Regions from separate parts of the Homo sapiens genome. Here region 2 is linked to region 1. The links come from fine-mapping of genetic effects on gene expression. A gene starts in region 1. The other region holds a variant in brackets. All regions are shown on one strand. Distances are between the middles of the regions. Region 1 holds the start of GJD2-DT (GJD2 divergent transcript). Region 2 holds the start of LOC107984776 (a long non-coding RNA gene).

Evidence for each region.
Region 2: its variant is fine-mapped to the expression of GJD2-DT in tibial artery (GTEx, PIP above 0.99).

Annotation. Positions count from the first base shown.
Region 1 is chr15:34,750,221-34,760,008 of GRCh38, forward strand. It overlaps GJD2-DT (GJD2 divergent transcript), which reads left to right and starts at 4,864. Exons shown (of 3, transcript NR_120329.1): 1 at 4,864-5,001. GJD2 (gap junction protein delta 2) reads right to left here and starts at 4,778. Exons shown (of 2, transcript NM_020660.3): 1 at 4,198-4,778; 2 at 812-3,152. The coding sequence starts at 4,268. The coding sequence ends at 2,258.
Region 2 is chr15:34,796,627-34,806,793 of GRCh38, forward strand. The region is part of intron 2 of GJD2-DT (GJD2 divergent transcript); the gene reads left to right. It overlaps LOC107984776 (a long non-coding RNA gene), which reads left to right and starts at 8,451. Exons shown (of 3, transcript XR_001751477.1): 1 at 8,451-8,650; 2 at 9,079-9,130; 3 at 9,557-9,709. RefSeq lists an enhancer at 70-541. The variant T/C (reference allele first, on the strand shown) is at 4,405.

The sequences.
Region 1 (9,788 bases):
ATGTAGGCAGAAAATACCAAAAATGAGAGTAAAATGTTGTGGCTAAAAAGTAATGTCTTATGACATGTAAGTAAAGGATCAATCTCCTTTGAAGAACCCACTAAGAAATGATTGATTAAAAGTCTAGAATTGTGCTGTGTAATAGAGTAGCAACTAACCGTACTTGGCTATTTAAATTAATTAAATAAAATTAGAAATTCTGTTCTTGATTTGCACTAGCCATGTTTTAAGAGCTCAGTAGTCACATGTGGCTAGTTGTTGCCACATTGGGCAGCATGAATAGAAGAAATCCTCATCATTACAGAAAGTTCTACTGGCAGCGCTGGTCTAGAGAGATCTGCTTGACTACCGGGTTAGCATTGTGTTAAGCATCAGACCCCGAAGAGATCATGGAAAGAACAGCATGCTCGCCAAGTGTAATGATTAATCCATGGCAGGAAAAAAAAATGTGGTGGAAAGAAAAAAAAATTCCACTCCTGGAATGGGCTAATATGATGTAGTATTGACATTTGTGTTATAAGAAATAGACAAGTAAGGAAAGTTTTGAGCTGAAATGGAAAGGAGCTAATAAATCATACGATTTGAATATCTCACCACTCCCTTATGAACATTCATAAAGCATTGATTTGGAAGAAAATATCCATGAAAAGTCTCTCTTCATCTGTTAGTGGCTGATTGTATTTTATTGGTCATTCCTCAAATACTATTCAACCATGACTTACTTCCTACCCCCAATGTTTTTCTGTTATAACATTTTTGATCATGCATTTAAATAAATATACCCCCCATCAAAAAGTGCAGACTCTTCCCATTTTACAAAAAAAGGCAAGAACTTTATTTTAAACAAATCCTTAGTTGTGTGTTACACCATGTCCATATCTAAATCAAAAATGATAATGATAATTCAAAGGGAACAAAGGGCTTCATAAAAGCACATTACCCAGATGTTTCTCTTGGCCAATATTTTAACTAAATACACAGTGGATATGAAAGGTACAGTATGGCACTTAAATAAATAAGAGCAAAAAGAAGAAAACATATTGACAGTCCAATGCAATAGGTTTTTGAACCTTTGGTATATGTCTCAAATAAGTCACCGTAAACACACGTTAGCCAATAGTGTTTAGTTGCAGGTCTTTTAAGCCAGTAATTTTGTATGTGTGTCTGTATATGTGTGTGTGTTTCAAAGAGTAACTGAAAAAATAATAAATCAGGATTGACATGGGATGATTAAGGTCTCTGGTGTAAGCACACAGGTAAATTCAAATCATGGCAAAATGACCGTGCAGCTGTGTTGCACAACAAAACTATGTAAGAAAATGAGTGAGATACACCAGTTACAAATGCTGTGGCTCAGCTAGACACTCTTGATATTAGCCAAAAAAAATCTTTTTAATGTTAACCAAAGTCCACAAGCTGGAAGGCAGAAATATCCTGAAGCTCGTAACCGTGTGCCTAACTGTGCAACAACAATCTCACAAAAGTGTTGTAGTTGCATATTGCAATTCCCTCCCTCCCACCCATCCCCCATCCCTAGTAAACAGCACCAGTGCAGTTTGAGTTAGAAAACTGGAAATATTGAGACATTCCTAAGGTTTTCATCACGACTAAGGGCCAGTCAGATGGGGCTCTAATGAAAACCTCTGCCATGGCCGTTCTCCAATAAGCACCCCATGTAATTCCCTCTAAGTTTGCAAATAAAACATATTAGGTCTAATGTAAGGCCAGATTCTGGAAAAAAAAAAAAAAAAAAAAAAAAAGCTGGCATGCTATTTTGGATTGAGGGAAAGGGGCATGCTGGTGGGGGAGATACATGAAGAGTGCCTCAAGGATGTTTGTCCCATGGCTCAGGATAAAGGGATGGGTTGAGATAGGTCACAAATTTTATATCAATGAAGTACTCAACTCACACCATTCACCAGAATAAAGAGCTCAGCAGGGCTAAGTCCTACTTGGTAGCTGTGCAAGTTCAGTGTTATCAGGATCAGGCTAGGCCATAAACAGAAAGGGACCAAAGAAGTCTAATTGATCCATTTCATCACTCTACCCAATCGTCTCTGTAGAACCAATTAGGTGATATGTGAAAATGGGTCCACTTTTCCTCCTTTCCCATTGGTGCAAAATCTTCTTTTATCCAGTCTTATCCTACATCTTAATGGTGAGGGTCACATAAATGAGGGTGGATACAGCCACGTCTGAGCAGTCATCTGCCTTGGGGCTCCTTGCCATCCCCCAGACCTTCATGAAACCTGCCCTCTCACACATAGGCAGAGTCACTGGACTGAGTCCTGCCAAAATTGGGAACACTGACCCTTGGCAGGTCCTTGTTACGAATCTCATAGATTGACTTTCTCTTGGCCTGAGCCCCTCGCACAGCCAGCTTGATCTTGCGCCATCCCAGGTGGTTGAGTTCAGCCAGGTTGAGCACAACACAGATGCCACTTACAGCAAACATGAACACTAGAAAGACAGTCTTCTCAGTTGGCCGGGACACATAACATTCCACCTCCTTGATGCAGGGGTAGCGGTTACACTCATACAACCCTGGGACACTAAAGCCATAGAGAAAATATTGGCCAACCAGGAACCCAATTTCCAGGGCATTTCGGAACACCACTTGGATAATGTAGAAGCGGGAGATGCCTTCCTGCCTTCTGAGCTTGGATTTTGATGCAGTGCGTAGACCTGATGGGTGTGGAGTCAGCTCCTTAACCTCTAAACAATCTGGCTCTGTCTCCTTACTGGTGTTCTCTGTGTTCTGCAGCACCCCATTCACAATAGCATTTTGCAACTTCTTATCTTCTCGTTTGCCCCCACCACTGCCCCCACCCCCAGTTCCTCCAGGACCTCCTATGGACTCAGGGGGGTCTCTGTCCAGGGCTAGGAAGACTGTAGAGTAGCGGCGTTCTCGCTGCTTGGCGGACTGGTGCACAGAGTAGGTGATGAAGCAAAGACTGGGGGTACACACCATTATGATCTGGAAGACCCAGTAACGTATGTGGGAGATGGGGAAGGCGCGGTCATAGCAGGCCTGGTTACAGCCGGGCTGCAGGGTGTTGCACACAAACATGGTCTGCTCATCATCGTACACCGTCTCCCCCACAATGGCCACAATGAGGATCCGGAAGATCACCACCACAGTCAACAGGATCCTGAACGGAGGAAGAGGGAGGGAGAGAGGTTCTCACGGGCTGCGTCACTGACAGGAAACCCCTGCTCCTCCCTTCCCTTTGCTGGTGTTTACCAGTCTTTTGACTGGGGAGCTGTCCATCCCGGGCTGGTACTGAACTAGGAATCTGGGAAAGCTTTTTGTCTCTTCCTTTTCTGCTGAGTGCTGGTAGGCTGGGAATATTTCATATTATAGAGATCCCAGGTACACACATCTCCATACACTGGACATAGTCTACTTGCAACAGATAGATTTCATCTCTCTATATAGAATGTATAGAAACACAAAACACACCTTCACTCTGGATATGGCAAATGCACACAGAATACCTTTACAGATGGTGCATGCTTCGAGGTCTACACACAGGGTGTGTAAATAACTACTCCATGTGTATATTTAGTTTATTCTCAACATGAATATTAAATTTAATGCTTTATATAAGCAGATGGCTATGAATATATATTCATATATATTGAACTCATATATATATAAAGCTAGGTAGATAGAGACATAGATATAGATACAGACCCAAAAATGGCAATTGGGTGTGTAGGCTCGGTAAGTTTACACCGCCAAATAAGTTTGGTTTAGTAATTATTTGTTGAGAAAAGAGGCATCTGCTCTGAAGAGCAAATCCATCTCCCCATTTGCCCTTTTCTGTCCAAATGCAATCCTGCCTTCTTTGTAGATTCTATTTAGGGAACCAAATGGAGATTGGCTCTGACTCTGGAGAGTGGAGGGACCAAGACTGAGCCAGCGGCTCCTTTTCTGATGTGGGAAGAGTGAAGCCCCAGTGGTGCTTGATGGGGAAGGGATGGGCAGCTGGTTAGGAGTAGCTAGAGGAGGGGGGCATCGCGGGGCGTCGGGTAATCCCTCATCGCCGGGAACACCGGAGCCTTGACCTAGGACGATGGGGAGGAGGCAGAGGACGGACTGGGGATTGGAGCGGGAGACTCAGTCCAGGTGTGAGAAGGGACTCCCGGGGGCCGCCCGACGGGGCCCCCTGACCGCCGGCTTGGCGCCCTTACCTCCCGATCATAGTGGAGTGCTGCTGCACCGCGGCTTCTAGCAGCCTCTCCAAGATGGTCCATTCCCCCATCGCTGTGCATCCGGAGGCAGCAGACAAAGACTGGGCAGCACCGGGCACGTTCCCGCTCCTGGCCCCTCCCCGGGCCGCACTTCCAGAATGGGAGTGAATTGCCTCCCAATTAAAGAAGCAATTTTTTAAAAAATCCTCGAATCCCCCTTTCCTTTTATTGTACTTAAAAGAGAAGAAATGGGGAAAGAAATCCAAGCGCGTCCCGACCGATGGGGCAGTTGGCGCGGTCTAGAGAGAGGGCACGAACCTCGGGCGCCGTCCGGGGTTCGGGTCTGGATCCCGCGGACGCCGGGACGAGGGGCGGGGCGGGGTGGCAGCCTGCAGGTCCTCCAGCGCTCGCCCGCCCAGGAGAAGTCTCAGCGCCGCTCTCCGCCGCAGGTTGGGGGCCAGGGGAGGGTCCGAACACCGGCTCTGTTCCTGCTACTTCAGCGGGCACCTGGCGCTCCGGCGCGGCAGCCTGCGAGGCCAGGGCCGAGCGCGCGGAGCCGAATGCTGGGCTCGGGGATCCGCGGCCGCCGCCTCTAATCCGCCCTTAAGTAGTCTCCGCCTGCGTCACGCCAGGTCGGCGGAGGGGAGCAGAGCGCGCCGTGCGGCTGTCGCTGCGCGTCGGAGCCCGAGGGGCCGGGGACGCGCGCGGGGGGAGAGGGGCAAGAGTCCTGGAGGCCCGGCGGGGAGCGGGGCGATTTCGAAAGGAAGGACTGCAGCGCCCCTCGGGGCTTCTCGGGGAGCCCAGGTAACCTCACCTGACCGCCAGACCCAAGCAGGCGGAGGGGGAGCCGGGAGCGGACGCGTGGGTGAGTGGGGAGGGGAGTGAGTAGGTATCTTCTCTTCTCTCGGTGCATCCCTCACCTTTTCGCTTTTTGCCTCCTGGAGACAACTGAAATTCCTTCCCTAGATGGAGATGCTGGCTGAGGGAGGGCGAGTGGGGGCGACCACTTTTAAATCTCCCTTAGGGGACAGAGTGGCTGAGAGTGCTTCTGCAGAGTGGCTGCGGTTCGGTGCCTCTGTGGATCCGACAGTGAAGTGAGAAAGGCTTGATGGGAATCCATTTAGGCTGAAGGGTAAATGCAGGTGTGGAGCTGTCTCTCGGTATAGGGGTCAGGGCACACGAGCGCATCTAACAGGTGCCTCGCAAAGAGCAAGTGGGGTGGCCATGGTTAAAGGTCTCGCTTCCCCTTGCACTAACCCAGATGCTCGGCTCTTTTTAAATTATTGCTATTATTTTACTAATGGGAAGGGGGGGCGGGGTACTCGTCAGGTAAACTGTGATTTAATCTGAATTTAAGACCCAGTATTCTGCTAGCAGAAACAGAGCCACTCACAGCCTCGCCCTGCCCCCACTTGCCTTACTGGGTTTGGCTTTCTCCCCTCAACCAGCAGATCCCGGTTTTTAAAATTCACATTGTGTTGTCAGTTCTGTCTAGAGCAACTACTTAATTGGTTGCTGAAAAATTGAAACAACCTCACTAAGCTGCTAATTAGCCCAGGGGTCAGTATTAGGAGACACTGTAGCTGGCAGTGTTTGATGTAAATGTACCAAAAGTCCAATGGGAAAGTAATTGTCATCCTTTCGAAAACACGACCTTGAAAGGGTTGCTAACTTGTCCTAGGCATATAAAGGGACCTAGCCTTAATTATCCACAGGGATCATAGCACATATGTATATTACATAAGCCACACCATGGTGAGCCTTCACTTCTGGAACAACCGAGGTGGTTGGGTAGTTGGTGGCCCAGGGACTGGGAAGAAAGGTGCAGGGCATGGCCCTCAGTCCACTCACAGTGTACTTCTTCATAAAATGATGTTTAAACACACGGTCTAAGCTTCGCCGCCAGAAAGATCACTGAAATCCTCTGCTAGGGTTGACATCTTTACCCCAAGAAAGCAGCCTTTCACTGCAAAGGAGTAAAAGAGTCCACTAACAATGGAGAGAGGGATAAAGTGATTTATTAGTTTCCTTCTGAACACGGAGGAGGTTCAAGGGTGAGGACGAATGGATACCCTATTATCCAGTTAGCTTCCAGATGGAATGGTGATCCCCTAACCCAAACTTGGTGTGTTTTCCCAGGTTTCCCTTCTACTCCCCTTGGCCCTAGGTCCCTGTATTCCCTCCTTGTCTGGCAGACTCTCTTATAGTAAATGATCTTAGCCAAGAAGTGAATGAGTAAGTCCAAAGGGAAATCTGTTTAACATCTTTAAATGTCCCAAAATAGGCTGCACAACTCAAAATTGTCATTTTATGTGTTGGCTTTCCCAAACCGTTAAAGATTATGATCCTAAGAACATAGACTGCAGGAAATGCAATTATCAGACACTACGCTATGACTGAATTGTTGATCATTTGTGTATTATTTTGAAATATACTTTAATATGCCATATAGATTCCACATATAAACATGTGCAAACAACATAGGTGTATAAGTGCACAAAGACGCATATATATAGAACCTATATTTTAAAACTCATCAGTTGGACTGTGTAGGCTACTTTTAAATAAAAATCTTAGTCTCACCACCACACTTCAGAAATAACCATTTTTATTTTTAATAACCACTCATAAATTTCACACTTACTACATTGTACTTCCTCCTTCAAGTCCAGTCAACTCCATTTTCAATTAATAATTTGTTCCGATAAACAAATGTGCATTAAATGTGAAATGGTTCTCTGTGGATCCGGGCATCTCTCAGTTTCCTCAGGGCATTGTATCTTCTTGATAGATTCTGATTATCTCAACTCTCCTCTGATTGAAAACCCCCGTTTAAGGCAGCTGGGAAGTTCTTTCCATTACATCTTATTTAAAAGCCATTCTGTTTATTAAAATAATAGTTTTGGATGAGAAACAATGAAATTCGTAGAATGCTCATAGAATAACCTTTGCTGCACAACAGACTGTCTGGGGATCTTCATTAAAAAGACAGATGCTGCGATCCCATCCCAATTCTGCTAAATTGAAATCTATGGAAACAAGATTGAGGTAGCTGTGTTATTAACGGGTTCTCATCCACAGCTCCAATAACAATAAAAACCTGAGAACTTTTAGTTCCATGACTATTAGGGCAGGAGTGAATCCTAGGGATGAGGAAATCTATCATCCATTTGTTTCATAGTGTTAAAACTGACCCAAAGCTTAGCTAGCTTGCCTAAAATCATATGGGTAGCAAAGGAAAAGCTATGAAGAATGTGGTATTCAGAATCCTAGAGAAGATCAAAATTATTTAAAAGTATGAAAAAAATGTGATATTTGAAGAAGAAAAGGGGAATTAAAGTGGGAACATGCTCACCTCCAGACATTTAGAGGAAAAAAATACCTAGATTGTTGATCTGCAAATCTATGTCTTACCAAATAGTATTTTCCATTAACAGAGCAGGGAAATATTATCCACATCTAGTGGGAAAAACTGCAAAGGCATGGAGCAAAGGGTGTTGTTGAATGTTATAATACAGGAGAGAATGTAGAGCTACTAACAATGATTCCATTTACTACATAGGGGTGTCTGAATTTGTTCTTATCCTTATATGTGCTCAAAATTTCATTCTCTTCTCAACCACAGACTCCCAGGTGAACCTTTCAGCCTTGCAGCTTCAAATGTTTTGTAAATGAAACCTCATAGGAGCTTTGTATATGTTGTAAGAATGAACATTAATCTACTGACCTCTATTCTACTGGACTGTAAATTCCTAGAGATCAGAGAGCATGCTCATATGTCATGGTTCTTTTCATAGCGTCTTTAAACTCAAGCATTTGTTGAAAGTGAAGGTCAGCTATTCTGGCTCTCTATTCCCCTCAGCCTAGCAGAACTGCACTTTTCCTGAGGAGAAGTGGGTCCTGGGTGTCCTCCACAATCACAAGTAATATTCAAGTCAGAAAGGAGAAAGGGGCTCCCTTTGCGAAGTGAAAGTTCCTACACACTTAGGATAGCCTGGACCCCTCAGTAGAAAGCCTTCTTACTAACCACCAGCCCCCTGCCCTCACTTCCATTATTCTCTCAATACTGCAGTCCAGACACCCGCTGAACTGACCGGGGGAATGCAGCTGAGCAGGTAAGGCTTGGGCTGCAGCATCAGAGAGGCAACCCCAGCTAGCTGAGCTCAGTCCTGGATTGGGAAGGACCAGCATCTGTAGCCTCCTGAAATTTGTGTGGCATGGGAGGGACTGCATTCGATTTGGAATTGATCTCTGTGTTGAACTCTCCTACATTTCATTCACAAATAGCTAGGATTAACTGAGCTTTATCTCTCCCAGTGGCCTACGTGCATCTGTTTCCTAATGAAACCATCAACTTGTCTTCTTAAGGGGCAACCCCAACCTGTCTTGGGAGACTCAAAAGAACCTAAGTGGCAGATGGAATCTATTTTTATTTGCTGCAAAGTGGTTTTTCTCTTTTTTTCTTTCATGTGTCCTTCCCTATGTATAAGCCTCAGTTCAAATGTTTAGGAAAACACTTGATTTTGCTGTTCAGACAAAATTTATGAAGTAATGTTTCCAAAGAGAGTAAAGCTGTCCGATGTACCAATCTTAAGTAGCCCTAAATATAGTGGCTTGCTTTGTGGTCTAAGATTCTCCAGAATCTGCTATCTTCAAAATTATTTTGCCATCTCATGGACCCAAATGCCAAATCATGTCTTAGGCCCAAGAGATTATGTATCCAAATGGTAAGGAAATCTAAAGTCTTCTGCCTGCTAGTTCTTTGAATAAAAGAGTATATAGCCTTTAAAAAAATTACATATACAAATTCCCCCATTCCCCGACTACCTCGTATATAGAGAATATACCTATGTGTAATAATATCTCAGGGATTAATGTAATATGGTATTGTGGCCAAAGCAGATGTGTGAAATCACAGCAAATAAATTAACACTGCATTAAGAATCAAATCATTCCTGCTGACACATAATCTTTCACTTTTATATCAAGTCGTGATTCCCATTCACATCAGGAGCTTCCCAGGGGGGCTCATTAAACCTGCACAAAGAGATTTCTTTGAAGTCAGTGCTATTCCCATGAATAGCATTCAGCTACAGTGCAGAAGAGCCTGCCCGCCTGGTGTCTAGGCACCCTTCCCTTCACTCTCATTGTTGCTGTCCAGCCAGAGGCCCAGCAAGGCAGGCTATAGCAGGGCTTCCTGCTGAGTGCCTTTCTAGTCTGTATGAAAGAGATGAGGAAATTGCAGGGGAAATGCACATCGGTAGGACCTGCCCTTGACAGAATTGTTAAGCTGGGAGAATATATTTCTTTTCCCACATGTGCCCTTCTGCTCTTCTTCCACATCAGAGTGTACTGCTACAAGAGCTAAAAGTTGGTTCCATCCCGGTGCCAAGATTATTAAGAGGAATTGGTATTCATCCCAAAAGAACCTTCTCTAAGATCTGAAGCTTACATTCAAGGTTCCTTCTTGCGCTCATAATTGTACGTGGACTCCCCTGGTTGCCTGATATCTTGACTTCCTGAAATTCAGCTAATTTCTGTTTTTGCTGGGACTCTGGGGGCTCAGGCATTACTCAGCACAGAGGCTTTTG
Region 2 (10,167 bases), 47 kb after region 1:
AATGAGCTAGAAATGCAATCTCAAGAGCCATCCCAATCCGCTTTTCAGCAAGATCCTCATTTGCTTGGTATGTACATTAAAGTGTGAGAAGCATTGGCATAAATGACAGATATCATCTCCTCTGTGGAAAACAGATTTTGCAGGATCTTGAACTTTTGAGAAGGAAAAAGAAAAATGACATGAAATGAGGAGAGGGAGAAGGAAGAGGGAGATGTAAGAAGGACACAGATCACTAGTTTGCCCTGGGGTGCCCTGCATTCTCAGTTCTTGACTGGAGCTTTGATTTTTAATGCTTGTGTTTTTCCTCCAGTTCACACCAGTTAAAAATAGAAAACTGGGCACTGGCATCTCTCTCTAGAGTGGTCTTGGGCTGATATGCTGAGGAGGCCTGCTGATTAGATACTTGTCCCGACTGGGGAATGCTGGGCCCTCCCCTCTGAACTCCCCAACCATGTTTGGGTTGGTCTGGAGAAGAAACGCGATGGGCAGCTGTGTGGTGGGGTCGGGTAAGAGACCTGGCTGAGATTACTCTGTGCAGCACAGCAGGCATTTTACAGTGAAAATGTTTATTGACAGGATGCCAAGAGTAGAACTGCCTTGTCTCGTGAAAATATAGAAAAACCAAGGAAAAGGAGAAATGGGACTGGTGTCAGAGCCAGACAGAACTGGGCTCAAATGCTGCCTTTATCACTTACTAACTATCTGTTTGGTCTTGAGCAAGACACTTAACCTTCCCAAGCCCCAAGTTTTCCCTCTCAAAAGTGATACCATAACACTTGTTGCAGAAGTTATTGTGTATTGTAATAGTTAGAAACAAATGCTGTAAGTAATATGGAAGATACAAAGCAAATTGTATGTGTAATAATGATACTTTTGGAGGCAGTAGTAGCTCTGCCTTTTAAAGAATCAGGTTGATTTCATTCTTCATTGATTCAGCAAATCTTTGCAGGACAAGAACTGTGCTAGTTAAGGATTCAGTGATAAATAAAACAGAGCAGGACTCATCCTCCGTGGCAATTACAGAAAAGTCAGACAGCTATGGCACAAACTGGGAGGGAAGAAGAGGTATCAGCAGGATAGTCACAAAAAGGGAATGGAGGTCTGAAAGAGTTGCCGAGAAAGCCTTCCCCAGGATGTGTTGTTCGTTTTTAAAAGTAGAGCAGAACTGAAGTTTATGAACATTTGTGTGAGAGAAAGAGTTTCTGCATGGGAGTGGCTGGTGAGAGACTCCCACTATGACTGCTATAGGTGCAAAGACTCTCAGGAATGGAAAACCATGATTATTGACCTTTGTCCTTCGCACAGGCTTCGGGGATCTAGGAGGCCACTTCCAGCCCCCTCATCTCAGGACCATTGGCTCTAGTGGGAGGCCAGTAGAACAGTGCAGGACACAACAGCAGTTTTGTGAAACAATATTCACCCTTAAAATGTTTGAAAAATGTGTTTCCTATTCCGCTCAATTTCATTGCCTAACACTCAAAACAGTGTATTTTCATATGTGTTATGTGTGTAGCAAGAACGAATGCTTATTTCTTAAAAATTTATGATTGTTTGATATTTACTATTTGTATTACCACTCAATTTCCACATTTTATTTATTTTATTTTTATGTATTTGTTTGTTTGCTTCAGACAGGGTCTCCCTCTGTTACCCAGGTATAATCAGGTGCGGTGGTATAATCAGGGCTCACTGCAGCCTCAACCTCCCAGGCTCAGGTGATCCTCCCACCTTAGCCGATTCTCCCACCTTAGCTGATCCTCCCATCTCAGCCTCCCAAACAGCTGGGACTGCAGGCACATGCCAACACACCCCGCTAATTTTTGTATTTTTTGAAGAGACGGGGTTTCACTATGTTGCCTAAGCTGGTCTCAAGCTCCTGGGCTCAACTGATCTGCCAGCCTCAGCTTCCCAAAGTGCTGGGATTACAGGCATGAGCCACCAAGCCTGGCCTTGATTTCCACATTTTAAAAACTTTGAACCCTATTTTATATATTTTAAAATGTAAACCAACAGGAAAGTAAGATTTCATGACTGAGTTTTATTTAAACTACTTTTTACAGATCCACTTAATTTGAAAATTGAGATTGGCTTTTTAAGCATATAAAAATGACATCTCAAAAAAAATTACAAAACAAAGAAGAAAAAAATGACATCTCCTCTTTGGTACATTCTAGATTTTTTTTTAATTATGGTAAAATATGCATATATCAAATTTACTATCTTAACCATTTAGGAATACAGAGTTCAAAAGTGTTCAGTGCATTCACATTGTTGTGCAGTCTCCGAGTGTTATTTTTTTTATTGCTAATTGTGACTAAATTGTGCTTCCTGCAGTTTGAGAAAGACCAGTTTATATCCTATGAGGTAGGGAACCACTGAGCCTTTTTTGTCTGAGGTCACACAGGTGAGCAAATGGTGGAGTGACAATTCAAACTCAGGCACCTGATTTTAAGCCCTATTCCCAACCACCACCAAAAATACCTTCACATATACTTGGTCTGCTATTTCTCAGAATGTGATGCTAGAACCGCCTCCAGCCAAATTACCTAGACTGCCTCATAGAAATTCAGATTCCTGGGTTCCACCCTGGAAGATTGAATCTGCATTTTAAATGAGCCCTCACTGTTCTCCCCTAGGTATGTTTCTCTGCAGAGTGAAAAACTTAGCCGCACTGCTTGGCTGTTCTCTCTGAAGCCCACAGAGCTTTGCTGGATGCTGCCCAAGCTGCCAGTGCTGGCTGGAGTCCAGGTTGGCTGACCTTGTAGATCCCAGTGGGATGGCAGAGCTGGGGCGGGTCCCCAGGGCTCTTGAGGGCCAGTGAAGCCCTTTTCGGCGTGGACTGGCCATGAGGGAGACGTGCAGGGCAAACTGAAGGAACAGAAGGTGGGACAGTTCCCACTGCCCTTGCCTCGGGGGAAGTCTGTTTCATCCACCATCTGCTGGGATCTGGAAGGGAGCGGCCCAGCCTCCTCCCCGGCACTGGGGGATTAGCAGTCACTTATCTCAGCTGTTCCTCCGTTCGGAGGTGTCACAGTATTTACAGAGAAGCCAGAAACAGACAGAGCCACACTTAATTCCTCCCCATGAGCCCTCCCCATCACCTCCTGTCCCTCCTGCATTCTGTGTGCCGGGGGAGGGAGAGCCTCGGTTTAGATCAGACCGGGGGGAGGATCTAGCCTTCCTAAACATTCCTATTTTCTTTGCCTACACATTTGTTCACCCCCACTGCCCTCTGGCTGGATCTGGGTTTCAGTTTTCATTGAAAGGAGAAAGTGACATGATGGTGAGGGCTGCAGGCCCCCACACATCCTGGTGTTCAGAGTCCAATATATGAGGCATGGCTAATCTTCACAGCATACTTCCCCGTGTTTTATATGCAACCACCAAGGGGATTAACCCAGGCAGAGGGTATTTGGCCCCAGATGGATTCTGTTCTTGGCAGGTCCCAGCCGTCACTGTCTTCTAACATGATAGGACCAACTGTAATGAACCATTTAATAAGACTCAGAAAAGGAGGGCAGGGGAAGGAGGAAGGGGCACGGAGGAGGGAGAACATAGAAGGGAACATAGAAGGAAGATGCTTCTCTGGATCCTGGTGACTACATTTTTTTTTTTTTTTTTTTTTGAGACAGAGCGTTGCTCTGTCCCCCAGGCTGGAGTGCAGTGGGGCAATCTCAGCTCACTGCAAGTTTCAAGTTATTCTCCTGCCTCAGCCTCTTGAGTAGCTGGGAATACAGGCACACATCACCATTCCTGGCTAATTTTTGTATTTTTAGTAGAGACAGGGTTTCACCATGTTGGCCAGGCTGGTCTCGAGCTCCTGGCCTCAAGTGATCTGCCCGCCTCGGCCTCCCAAAGTGTTGAGATTAAAGGCGTGAGCCACCGCACTCAGACTAAAGACCACATTTTCAGTCTCCTCTATCCTGGTGACGTCAGCGGGAAAGAATCAGAAAGGATTTCTAGATAGCCTTTTAAATTCCTTAAAAGGAGTTTGTCTGTCAAGAATGAAATGCTCACGCCCATGAGTTTCTGCTTGGAAGTTACTACTCTTAGCTCAGATTTGACTTGCTCTGCACACTGGCAGTGACTTTATTTATGGAGTTTCAGTGTTTCAAGTATTACCTGGAGCAAATCCATCTTTCCTGGAGAGCCCAACCATGACAATGTCTGATCTAAGCCTGACCTGCAAGCAGAAGGGCTGGGAGACGTGCATCAGTAGTAAGAACTGTGAGCTCAGAAAACCTCCTGCAGGCTGCTTTCACTCACCTGCATCATGTAGAGCCCATCTCTTCCCCAGCAAAGATCAAGCACTCATCTGACACACAATATTGGTGATGGTAACACTAATTGTTGACATTTCCTGAGAATTTCCTAGAGGCTGGCACTATCCTGCCACTTTCTATG[T/C]GTATATGGTCAACATGGTCAGTTTCTAGATGAAGCTGGGCAGACTTCCAGCTGTAGAATCCATTTTTACCCAACTGTTCTCTTTGTTTTGTTTTGTTTTTAATTTTTTTGTACATAGAGACATGGTTTCCCCATGTTGCCCAGGCTGGTCTCTAACCCCTGAGCTCAGGTGATCCAGTTGCCTTGGCCTCCCAAAGTGCGGGATTATAGGTGTGAGCCACCGTGCCCAGCCCCAACTGTTCTTTGATATGATGTCACCAGCCTATGTTGAGGGGCTGTGTAAGAGTAGGTCACCATCTCTATTGTAAGGACATTGTAAGGATGTTTTCATGGATGTTCATCATAGGACACAATCTTCTTTATAAGCCTCCTTGGGAGAATTCCCTGTCTGACTCTGGTACCAAGGGCAGAAGCACATCTACCAACGAACTAGTTTGTTTTGATTTGTGTTCCCTGAATCTAGTGACCAGCTAAGGTTTCACTTTTGGTGTTGGCTAAGAAAAATTTTAGAGAACCACATATGTGGCCCAATTGTTACAGCGATTATAGGTCATTTTGATCTGTTTTACACACCCATCTCTATTTTTTATTTTTATTTTTCTTCTAATTTAGTTTTCATTTTTCTCTCTATCTTTGTAAGCTGGCATAAATCTTGTGTGGGACAAAACAAAGAATGAATGAATAGATAGATAAGAATGAATTTGTAGGAACAATGGAGAACATTTGAAATTACAATTGGGATGGCCATTTTACAAGTAGCTAAGAGTCTGCCATGACTTGCGTATATATCTGTAGTTTTTTCCATCCCAGTGAAAGCATAGGCCAGGTGTGGTGGCTCATGCATGTAATCCCAGCACTTTTGGAGGCCGAGGCAAGTGGATTGCTTGAATCCAGGAGTTCAAGACCAGTCTGGGCAACATGACGAAACCCCCATCTCTACAAAAATACATAATTAGCTGGGCATGGTGGTGCACACCTGTGGTCCTAGCTACTCCAGAGGCTAAGGTGGAAGGATTGCTTGAGCCTGGGATGTCCAGGCTGCAGTGAGCTGTGATCACACCACTGCACTGCAGCCTGAGCGGCAAAGCAAGACCTTGACTCAAACATAAATAAATAAATAAATAGCATATATTGCTTAATGAAAAAAACCCATTACCTGTAAACTATAATGTCATTTTGATTTTCCTCTTAACATGGTAAGTACAACTGGCAATTTAAAACAATATTTCCCTCATTATTAATATAGTATGTGTTTATTGTGATAAACTAGGAAAAAACAGTAAAGCTCTATATTGTAACCTCCCTAAAATAAAACTAAATGTGGCATAAAATTCATAAGGCCTTGGCTTCCATATCTACTTATAGCCGCTGGGCTGAGAAAAGACAAACAGCCTCCTATTCTGGTAGTCTGCAAGAATGTCCACTTGTTCTTCAAAGAGAGACATGCAATGCAAAGAATTTGCATTAAAAGCATTTCTTGGTCCTACTATTATAAAGTAAATTATCTCTAGTCAACAGCTGGAACTAAAGAATGTCAAACTCAGAGCAGGCTCTGCCCTTGGGATTATACCATCTTTATATATCCCACTTATGTATTTCAGAGGGTGGGTTCTGGTTTCCAAGTCAGCTGTTGAACTGTTTCAAACTTGTAGTTTAAAAACTGGTCTACCACAAACATAAAACTAAACCATATGAATATACTGCTGAAGGCATTGTCTTCATGTGGAGGGTCTGAAAGCACTTCTTTTAGAAAAACATCTTTACAGCTATTTTATTATCAAAATTGTTCTTAATTTAGACTACAGATAACCAGTTCATCTTAACCACCTCTTATTTAATTTCATAAATTAAAAATAATAACAAAGGCTTTATCTAAAGCTAGCACTGTGTACCTACAGAACTTGTACGTACAAAATAAAAACAACTGAAAAGCCTTCTTAAGCCGTTACTTGTGCGTGAATGCTGGCACCCATCCAAATAAGTAGGCCTATGGCTTATGATATTCCAGAGAGAAGAGCCAGCCTTTGAGGACTGAGAAGAGAAAATAATCAGCCATTAAACTATGATATGGGCCTTGAAAAGTGATCAGAACAACCTTGAGCATGACCCAAAGGACAGAACAGAGTAAAATACTACATCATCAAAGAAATACCTGCAATGGTTGGGTAACCCTAAGGTGAGAACATTCTTTAAGGATGAACAAGCAAAGTGCTCTCTATTCAGTTAATGTTTTTGCAAACTCTCTTTAAACATGCAATTTTCCAGTGAGAGATTCTAGTGAATTTAATATTACAGCACACTACTTATATTTTTCACAAAAGATTCACACTGGGCTCATTCCTTCACCAATGTATGTAGCCATCTACTTTCTGTGTTCCCTGTTCAGTGATGATAAGGAGTCCGGAGCCCCTCTCTTGAAGTTTCAGAGGGAGAGCCCTGAAGCTTTAATTTGAGCTGATCTCTTAGATTGGCATAATTGACCATTTCTGGTGTCCACCCAAGGATCGCATCACTAAGCTGCTGACTCAAGGTAGTGGGCGAGGCGGAGGAGAGAGGGATGAGGGTAGAAAGAGGGTGATGGGGGAGTGGCCTACAACACCTCTTCCCTCTCATTTCTTTCTGAATAGAAAACTGAAAATGCTAAATCAGAATCACAGACAAATGCAGTTACAAGGGGCTCAGGCTTTGCTTTCATACCTGGCAGTGCAAAACTTTATACTGAGTTTATTTTGTCCAACTCAGGGATGTGGGCCCCAAAAATGATAAGAGAAAAGGCAAAAGTGATCCCATGAGGCAGAAAGCCTTATGTATTAGAACAGCTCCAGTGTTCTGGGTCCTTCTAAAAGTGTGCACACCTCAGGCCTAAATATCAAACCCTAAAATATTATTCCATAATTTACATCTTTATGTAGTCAGAGTTTTCCTTGATCTATCTGGAAACTAACTCTTATTTTGACTAAATGTGAAAGGTTAAATGTTAAATTTGCCTACTTTCTCACCTGGAATATGTTTGTGTGTATCTGAGAGAATCAGTCATGAATGAAAGGTTTATTGTTTCTGTTTCCTACATTTATTTCATTGCAATGTCAAAAGGATAGATTGAGTACATCTTTCCAAATCATCTGATTCAGTCACAATCACATAAACAGGGTTTAAAAACCTTAAGGCTGGTATCAGGCAGCAGCCAAGAATGAACAGATGTTCTTTGTTTTCTCAAATATTTGTGAATGTAAATGGTCCAGATAACATCTCATAATCACCACACTGAAAGTGTGAAATGAATATACCTTTACAAAGAAATGTGGCATGATAGGAAAATATAATGCTCTATTCTTAGAGCATGTGTCATTTCCAATGAAGTATCTTTTACCCTCCTGGTCTCCCTGAACGCTATTTAAATTCTCAGCATTAACCAAGAAGACATTCAGATCTCAGCGACTGATTTTGAACAAAGGGTTTCAAATAATTTCTTTGGGAGATTCAAGGCTTGCTGTCACCGTAGAAATTCAAATGTGTCCCAAGTGTCTCATTTTGCAAACAACTTAGCAAAATATTACAGATGAATAAACTCTTTGATTTGAAACATCATACTTTCTAACTAAATATAATCAAAATAGTGATGCTTATCATACAAATGTAGATATGAACAAAAGGAAAAAGCCAATTCGGTGGCTAAATTGGTGTTCCCTTGAAATCAAGATGTGGTTTATTCAATTTCTTCATTCAATCAATATTTATTGAATGCCTTCTCTATGCAAGACATTGTGGCAGGAACAGTGGGAAATATTAGAGTGCATGAGATGGTGTATGCACACCAAGAGAATGTTTTCATTCTATTAGATAGTACCTAAACCCAGCAAGCCACCACAAAGATCTGTGCTAAGCAGCACGAAAGGGTATTAAACAAAGCCTGAGGGGCTGGAAAAAGGGAGCGAGCCCTTCTCATGAGGGTCCTTGGGCAAGACTTCATAGTTTATGGATTTTGAGCTGAGTCTATGAGGGCTAGTTGATGAATAGATTATGTTTGTAAGCTTTTGCATTATTTTCTGCCTGAATCATGTTTATGAGGAAGACAAAAATATGTTGTTCCCTCTTAAAATAATTACAGTTCGTTCAACAGATACTCACTGAATGCTCACTGTGTACCACATGCTGTACTTCCAAGAAGACAACTTCCGGGTTCCAAGTAAAGTCAGAAATAAGCACACTGCTGAAGGTGCACTGAACTGGTCCTTTCAGATGAAAAGTATGTGAAATGTGTGTGTTTCTGTGTATATTTTAAAGTGTAGCCACATCTTATTCTTTACGAATTGAAAGCTGGAACAGACCCAAGAGAAAGCTCTTCCCCACTTTTCCTAAGTCATTTGCCATGATTGGTTTTCAAAGTCTTTAGGGAGTGAATGATTTCAAGTTCTACTGTTTACATAAATCTTTGACTACTGAAGCCTATTTCAAAAAAAATCTAACCAAACAAACCAAAACTCTTAACCATGGGAAGAGTACTGAAGATTAAGGGAGGAAGGAATTATTACAGTTTCCATTTTTTACTTAGGTATTATTTGAATATTTTTCCAGAAGCATATATTAATTTTATCTATTAAAGAAAGAAAGAAAACAATCTAATGTAACATCCTCTTGCTGAAAGTCAAGCATACTTTTGTCTCATTTGCCCAGGGGAGATGTCTACGTAATAACGTCCATATACTTTAAGAAAGACATTGCATCTGTGAGTATTAAGGCTCTTTTTCACCAGCACTGTTATTTTTAAAACTGTCTTCATATTTGGTCTATAATCTAACTCTGTTCCAAATTTTTTTAGATGTAATAAAATTTCTTTTAGCCAAATTGGTTAGGAATTTGGTTTCTAGTTAAGTTGAAAACTACCATTGTTCAGAGAATTAAGTTCATCTTGATATGCCCACACAAAACTACAGAGAAGATCATTTAATTTTCTTTGATACTGTGAAGTTATTTCCAGAATATTCTCCTTTGGAAAACTAATTTTTGTCACACACTATAGCATAACACATGTGACAGATGTAGACTGTTGGGCCAAACAAAATTATAATATCCTGGAAAGCTGCTTAAATGAATTCACTGTTAGTATCAACATACCTGTTATCTATTTATTTCTTTTAAAAATCAAATATAGATCATGCTTCTGCTTCCAGTCAAGATGGAGCACTCCATTTCTTGCAGATGCTCCCTCTTACAACTGTGGCCATAACACAACAAACAGACCTAGGGAAACTAAAAAGAGGAAAGAAGGTGGACTGCCTAGGGATTTGGGGACTTGAGAAACAAACTGCTGGTAAGTTCTGTAAGTTTCGTTATTGCCTCTCATATATCCCAGACAGGGTGTTGCAGATGCCTCCAACCTAGAGCTGCCAACAGGTACAGACAAAATAAGCTCTAAGAAAAGTCTGTTCCTCCTAGTCAAAGGACCAAGAAGCTGGTGCCCTTGCAATAGGAAGCCTTTTTGGTAATACCTGCCCTACTCTTGCCAAGTACTAATGGGAAAATTATATTCCCTTCTCCACAGTTTCAGTGAGATGGAGTTGAGAGCTGATCTTCCTCCCCATCCCCAGTCTCTGTGGCATCAGATGGTGGTGCTCTGACTCACTTGCCCCGTGGTATTGGTAGGACTGATCAGGGAGCTAGTCTTCCCTTTCCTGCCAGCAGAAGCGGCCAGTGCTCCTATTCTCCCACCAGGGTAGAGTCAACAAGGAGCAGCAGCAAACTGAACCTCTAACCCCCACCCAG